Homo sapiens: one gene and its partner. The protein of the gene in region 1 purifies or fractionates together with the protein of each later gene. This does not show direct contact. Each region holds a gene or a part of one and is shown on either strand. Other genes may lie near its edges.

Region 1 (3,831 bases):
TGGCTAGGGAGGCCTCAGGAAACTTACAATCATGGTGGAAGGGGAAGCAAACACATCCTTCTTCACATGGTAGCAGGAGAGAGAAGAATGATAGCCAAGTAAAGGGGGAATCCCCTTATAAAATGATCAGCTCTCATGAGAACTTACTCACTATCACGAGAATAGCATGGGGAAACCACCCACATGATTCAATTACCTCCCACCAGGTCCCTCCCACGACATGCGGGGATTATGGGAACTACAATTCAAGATGAGATTTGGGTGAGGACACAGCCAAACTATCCATAGCATGCATATATATATTTATTGAATATATATATAATTTATATATTTTTATTATACTTTAAGTTCTAGGGTACATGTGCACAACATGCAGGTTTGTTACATATGTATACATGTGCCATGTTGGTGTGCTGCACCCATTAACTCATCATTTACATTAGGTATATCTCCTAATGCTATCCCTCCCTGCTCCTGCCACCTCACGACAGGCCCTGGTGTGTGATGTTCCCCACCCTGTGTCCAAGTGTTTTCATTGTTCAATTCCCACCTATGAGTGAGAACATGTGGTGTTTGGTTTTTTGTCCTTGTGATAGTTTGCTGAGAATGATGGTTTCCAGCTTCATCCATGTGCCTACAAAGGACATGAACTCATCATTTTTTATGGCTGCATAGTATTCCATGGTGTATATGTGCCACATTTTCTTAATCCAGTCTATCACTGATGGACATCTGGGTTGGTTCCAAGTCTTTGCTACTGTGAATAGTGCCGCAATAAACATACATGTGCATGTGTCTTTATAGCAGCATGATCTATAATCCTTTGGGTATATACCCAGTAATGAGATGGCTGGGTCAAATGGTATTTCTAGTTCTAGATCCTTGAGGAATCGCCACACTGTCTTCCACAATGGTTGAACTAGTTTACGGTCCCACCAACAGTGTAAAAGTGTTCCTATTTCTCCACATCCTCTCCAGCACTTGTTGCTTCCTGACTTTTTAATGATCACCATTCTAATTGGTGTGAGATGGTATCTCATTGTGGTTTTGATTTGCATTTCTCTGATGGCCAGTGATGATGAGCGTTTTTTCATGTGTCTGCTGGGTGCATAAATGTCTTCTTTTGAGAAGTGTCTGTTCATATCCTTTGCCCACTTTTTGATGGGGTTGTTTGTTTTTTTCTTGTAAATTTGTTTGAGTTCATTGTAGATTCTGGATATTAGCCCTTTGTCAGATGAGTCAATTGCAAAAATTTTCTCCCATTCTGTAGGTTGCCTGTTCACTCTGATGGTAGTTTCTTTTGCTGTGCAGAAGCTCTTTAGTTTAATTAGATCCCATTTGTCAATTTTGGCTTTTGTTGCCATTGCTTTTGGTGTTTTAGACATGAAGTCTTTGCCCATGCCTATGTCCTAAATGGTATTGCCTAGGTTCTCTTCTAGAGTTTTTATGGGTTTAGGCTTAACATTTAAGTCTTTAATCCATCTTGAATTAATTTTTGTATAAGGTGTAAGGAAGGGATCCAGTTTCAGCTTTCTATATATGGCTAGCCAGTTTTCCCAGCACCATTTATCAAATAGGGAATCCTTTCCCTATTTCTTGTTCTTGTCAGGTTTGTCAAAGATCAGATGGTTGTAGATGTGTGGTATTATTTCTGAGAGCTCTGTCCTGTTCCATTGATCTATATCTCTGTTTTTGTACCAGTACCATGCTATTTTGGTTACTGTAGCCTTGTAGTATAGTTTGAAGTCAGGTAGCATGATGCCTCCAACTTTGTTCTTTTGGCTTAGGACTGTCTTGGCAATGTGGGCTCTTTTTTGGTTCCATATGAACTTTAAAGTAGTTTTTCCAATTCTCTGAAGAAAGTCATTGGTAGTTTGATGGGGATGGCATTGAATCTATAAATTACCTTGGGCCGTATGGCCATTTCCACAATATTGATTCTTCCTATCCATGAGCATGGAATGCTCTTCCATTTGTTTGTGTCCTCTTTTATTTCATTGCACAGTGGTTTGTAGTTCTCCTTGAAGAGGTCCTTCACATCCCTTGTAAGTTGGATTCCTAGGTATTTTATTCTCTTTGAAGCAATTGTGAATGGGAGTTCATTCATGATTTGGCTCTCTGTTTGTCTGTTATTGGTGTGTAAGAATGCTTGTGATTTTTGCACATTGATTTTGTATCCTGAGACTTTGCTGAAGTTGCTTATCAGCTTAAGGAGATTTTGGGCTGAGATGATGTGGTTTTCTAGATATACAATCATGTCATCTGCAAACAGGGACAATTTGACTTCCTCTTTTCCTAATTGAATACCCTTTATTTCTTTCTCCTGCCTTATTGCCCTGGCCAGAACTTCCAACACTATGTTGAATAGGAGTGGTGAGAGAGGGCATCCCTGTCTTGTGCCAGTTTTCAAAGGGAATGCTTCCAGTTTTTGTCCATTCAGTCTGATATTGGCTGTGGGTTTGACATAAATAGCTCTTATTATTTTGAAATACGTCCCATCAATACCTAATTTATTGAGAGTTTTTAGCATGAAGAGCTGTTGGATTTTGTCAAAGGCCTTTTCTGCATCTATTGAGATAATCATGTGGTTTTTGTGTTTGGTTCTCTTTTTATGCTGGATTATGTTTATTGATTTGCATATGTTGAACCAGCCTTGCATCCCAGGGATGAAGCCCACTTGATCATGGTGGATAAGCTTTTTGATGTGCTGCTGGATTCGGTTTGCCAGTATTTTATTGAGGATTTTTGCATTGATGTTCATCAGGGATATTGGTCCAAAATTCTCTTTTTTTGTTGTTGTGTCTCTGCCAGGCTTTGGTATCAGGATGATGCTGGCCTCATAAAATGAGTTAGGGAGGATTCCATCTTTTTCTATTGATTGGAATAGTTTCAGAAGGAATGGTACCAGCTCCTCCTTGTACCTCTGGTAGAATTCAGCTGCGAATCCGTCTATATATATTCAATCTCAAAAAAGGGAATTTTGTCATTTGCAACAACATAGATGAACACTGAGGTCGTTATGCTAAGTGAAATAAGTCAGACATAGAAAGACAAATACTGCATGATCTCACCTATTTGTGGAATCTAAAATAGTCAAATAGTTAAACTCATAGCAGCAGAGTATAATAGTGGTTGCCAGGGGCTGGGGATGCGAGAAATGAAGAAATGTTGGTGACAGAGTTCAAAATTTCAGTTATGAAAGATAAATAAACTCTGGAGATCTACCGTACAGCAGTGTGACTATAAGTAACAATACTATATTGATTGTGACCTTCACTTCCGCTAAGAGGACAGATCTTAATTGTTCTTACCACACCAAAAAATAAAAAGAGAGCATAGAAAAAAGAAAACGGTAACTATGTGAGGTAACAGCTATATTATTGGCTGGATTGTGGTGATCATTTCACAGTGTATACACATACCAAAACATTAAGTTGTACAGCTTAATTATATATAATTTTTATTTGTCAATTATACAACACTAAAGCAGAAAAATAAACAGAATTTCTAACGCCTGTTTGGGCAAAAATAAAGTGTATAGAAATTTAGAACCCATTCCCAAATAACTCTCAAAGTAAGATAATAAAAGAGAGAAATTATTTATTTCACCCATTCATAAGAAGCTAAATATCAAAAATTCATCTTATAATGTTTATTGTAGGAAGAACAAATACTTTTTTATGATGAGCACAATCAGAAATGTCTCAAAGCCTTCCAGAATGCTCTGTGGGTAATTGATGAGCTTCATCATGAGAAATATAAACTGAACTCTCCTAATTCCAACCCTCAAATGTACTCTTCACATGGTAGCTCAGAAGGTGGGTGAGAGGC
Region 2 (3,831 bases), on another chromosome or scaffold:
TTACAGGCATGTGCCATCATGCCTAGTTAATACATAGTAAGTTTTGAAATTGGGAAGTATGAGTTCTCCAACTTCATTTTTCATTTTGTTTTGGCTATTTTGGGTCCCTTGCATTTTCATATGAATTTTAGATTAATCTTTTCAATTAATTGCTGTCAAAAGCCAGTTGTGATTTTGATAGGGACTGAGTTGATTGAGCCCATAGATCAATTTGGGGAGCATTGCCATCTTAATCATATTAAGTTGTCCAATCCATGAACACTGGATATGTTTCCATTCATTTAGGCCTTCCTTATTTCTTTCAATAATGTTCTGTAGTTTTCAGAGTATAAGTTTTGCATAGGAGGCAATTTTTTTTTAAGGCTATCTTCTTAGTTCCTACTACTCACACACAGATGAAGAACTATGGATCAAGAACACAGGCTGTAGCTGATCAAAAAGACACATGGAAAAGAAGAGGCTCAGAGCCAGTTCACTCACTTGAGGAGGGGCCTACTGAAGTGTCTGTGGCCCCTTTTCTTTCTTTTTTCTTTTTTTTTTTTAAATCCCAGCAAAGACTTAGAAGAGTGGTTCCTATCCTGGCTGCACACAGGAATCACCTAGGAAGCTTATCAAAATGATGATGTCTGGGCTGCAACTCAGAGCAATGACATCGAAATTTCATGAGGTGGCACCCAGGCATCAGTATTTTTAAAATATGCAGCCAAGGTTGGAAACTGTTGATTAAAGTAATGACAAGATGGTTCAATGAAGTTTTCTATTTTATTCATTTATATTAATTTACTACTTATTTATATTCTAACTTATTCAAAAGGAATTAACTAGATGGACAAGAATTAGAGGTAAAAGCAAAAAAAAGTTGGGGTGAGAAAAAAGACAGAACATGGATGAAGAAATAAAACAGACCCAGGAATAAGACTAAAAATGCATACTATGACAATCTACACTTCCCACCCAAACTTGGGAAGCAGGATCAGTGTCATAATATGGCCACAGATACAAATAACCTTGGCGATTAGACCAAAGGGGTATCTGCCAGGTGGCCTCCCAGTAAGAACGGCAGGTGATGAGGTTCTGCAAGGGCATCTCCCAGGCTTACTTGCGGAGCATTTGGGTAACCTACAACTACAGGTCATCACTAAGTCTAGCTTAAAAATGTAAGGGAAAGCAAAGCCTAAGGAATCCAAGAAGAGCGTTCAAAATGTGAACAAACAAAAGTCCCACGGCAAATTTCGCATACAATGACAGAGCTACCCTACCTTAGTCTACAGTGAATGATTTTGTTCTTCCATAAAAGCAACTGCAGATCAAACAAAAAAACACAAACCCTATGTCTTTTTTAAAAATTAGAGGAGTAGGTCAACTATGTTTAGATGACCATGTCTGTACCTGCCTCCCACATCTCCCTCTCCCATCAGGGTATCCCAGTACCTGAATCTGTTCGTAGCTGGGGTGGTCTCCGTGTTAAATTCAGCCACTGGCACGCCCCTGGCAGCCACCTGGGGGGCAAACATGGCTGCTGGGTACACCACAGAGGAAGTGCCCACCTACAAGGCAAGTACACGGAGATGAACAAACAGCCAGACGACAAGGAGAAGGAACATTATTTCAGAAAACCTTACACAAACTCAGGCAGGTCTGTGGTTGCAGGTGTGAGAAAAGCCAAACAGGATGGGATAAAACAGGGTGTCCAAGGGACAAGGGAAAGTGAAGAGGTGTCCTTTGATCAATCACTAGAATCGAGAAGAATATGTGACATGAAAAGGAGAGTTATGCAAAGAGTGACATAGAAGTGACTCAATCAACATGTTTTGGGGTTAATTCTGGTTTTGTTTCTGCTTTTTAAAGTTAAACAAATGATCCATAACTTTTTAAAACATATTTTCTATCTTTTTGTTTAAGGTAGAAAATACGAAGAAAAAAACATACATATCATCCATAATCTTACCGCAAGATAACCACTGTTAACATTTTCATGTATGTCCTCTTAGGTTTTCTCTTATAAATATTTGCTTATAAACATTCTTTACAGGGATGGGAAGAGCATGACCTGTTTTGTAAACCGGCTTTTCTCATTTAACAATCCATCATCAACAGTGGCACTATACTCAACACTGGGAAGCATTCTTTAAATACTGGCTGAATGAATACGCACCACAAGAAAGTGCCTCTGCTTTTAAAGACGTGTCAAGAAAAATTTGAAATACGCATACAATCTGTCCAATGAATCCCACTTTTAGGAAATGTGTCCTAAGGAAATCATTTGAAGAGCATGCTAAGATTTCTATCTAAGGATATTCACGATATCATTGATTAAACTATCAAAATTTGAAATAGCCCAAATGTCTTACAGTAGAGAATTAGCTAAATATATCATTCCTTATCCATATATAACACCATACAGTCAATTGAAAGATGATATTGATTTAGACATATTGATATGGAACATGCTAAGTGAACTGCTGCGTGAACAAAGTAGTTTCAAAACAGAACATATGTCATGAACTCAGTTTTGAATTTTAATTAATACGTGTACATCTGCATAAGAAAAGGTTTAGACCAGAGGTGGGCAAACTTATTCTGAAAATGACCATACAGTAAATTTTTCAGGCTTTGCAGGCCATTCAATCTCTGTCACAAGTACTCAACTCTGCCACTTGTAGTTTGAAAGTAGTCATAGACAGTGTGTGGAAGAATGAGTGTGGCTGAGTTCCAATAAAACTTTATTTCCAAAAACAGGTAGCAGGCCCAATGTGGCCCAAAGGCTGCTGTTTGCTCACTCCTGGGTCTAGAAGAAAACATACTAAACTGCTAACGGTAACTATTTCTGGATAGCAGAACTATGGGCGATTTCTAATTTCCTCTTTATAATGTGATAATTTTTGCATGTTCTCAATTAAATTTAATCATAAGCATGTATTATTTAAAAAACCAATAGCATGTTCTTTTCTTTGTTTTTGGTGGGGCTGGGGGAGGAGGCTTTGAGATGCCCAAGACATGCATGGTTTCCTATTTTAATACAAATTCTTATTCATTGTTTCTCAGTTTTTCTATAGGATACCACAAAGACCTCTCAACATACATTTGAAGGAAAGGAAGAAATGGAGGGAGGAGAGAAGGCGGGAAGGAAAGAAGCAAGGGAGGGAGGAAGGAAAAGAGGAGAGGGGGAAGGAAAAAATAACAAACTCCAGTCCTGTCCTGGGGTTAGGGAAGGGCATGACCCACCACTAGACATAAATCACAGTGGGCGAGCTCTCTGTCAACCTCCTCCAGAATGGCAGGATCCAGGTTTTCTCCAAACCACACGACGTGAGGTCGCAGCAAGCCCCCGCAGCCTGCCTCTTCACACCTGGAAGAATGGGATCCTTAAGCCAACCCCGAGCCAAGTCTGCCCAGCTGGATCGGAGGGAGGCCAGGGGCTGCCCCAAACCTAGTACATCCAGATGGGTCACCTCTGATGCCTCTTATTCCCTACACCCTCCCTCCCAGCCTATATAAACTTGCCTTGCTTATGAAGCATCAGGTTTAATGGTCTTTTTTTTTTTTTTTTTTTTTGAGACGGAGTCTCACTCTGCTGCCCAGGCGGAAGTGCAATGCCATGGTCTCCGCTCACTGCAACCTCTGCCTCCCAGGTTCAAGCAATTCTGCCTCAGCCTCCCGAGCAGCTGGGACTACAGTCATGTGTGACCACACCCAGCTAATTTTCGTATTCTTAGTAGAGACATGTTTCACCACATTCGCCGGGCTGGTCTCAAACTGCTGACCTCAGGTGATCTGCCCTCCTCGGCCTCCCAAAGTGCTGGGATTACAGGCATGAGCCACCGCGCCCTG

The links.
Region 2: the proteins of GBP6 (region 1) and SIRT5 purify together in Homo sapiens (affinity purification with mass spectrometry; one large-scale study listed by BioGRID and IntAct). This does not show direct contact.

Annotation. Positions count from the first base shown.
Region 1 is NC_000001.11:89,370,319-89,374,149, reverse strand, and holds part of GBP6 (guanylate-binding protein 6), read right to left. Parts: intron 1-3,831.
Region 2 is NC_000006.12:13,598,550-13,602,380, reverse strand, and holds part of SIRT5 (NAD-dependent protein deacylase sirtuin-5, mitochondrial), read right to left. Parts: intron 3,352-3,831; exon of another isoform or gene 3,350-3,351; coding exon 3,226-3,349; exon of another isoform or gene 2,740-3,225; intron 1,548-2,739; coding exon 1,432-1,547; intron 1,301-1,431; coding exon of another isoform or gene 1,261-1,300; exon of another isoform or gene 744-1,260; intron 1-743. UniProt on the Homo sapiens protein: NAD-dependent lysine demalonylase, desuccinylase and deglutarylase that specifically removes malonyl, succinyl and glutaryl groups on target proteins.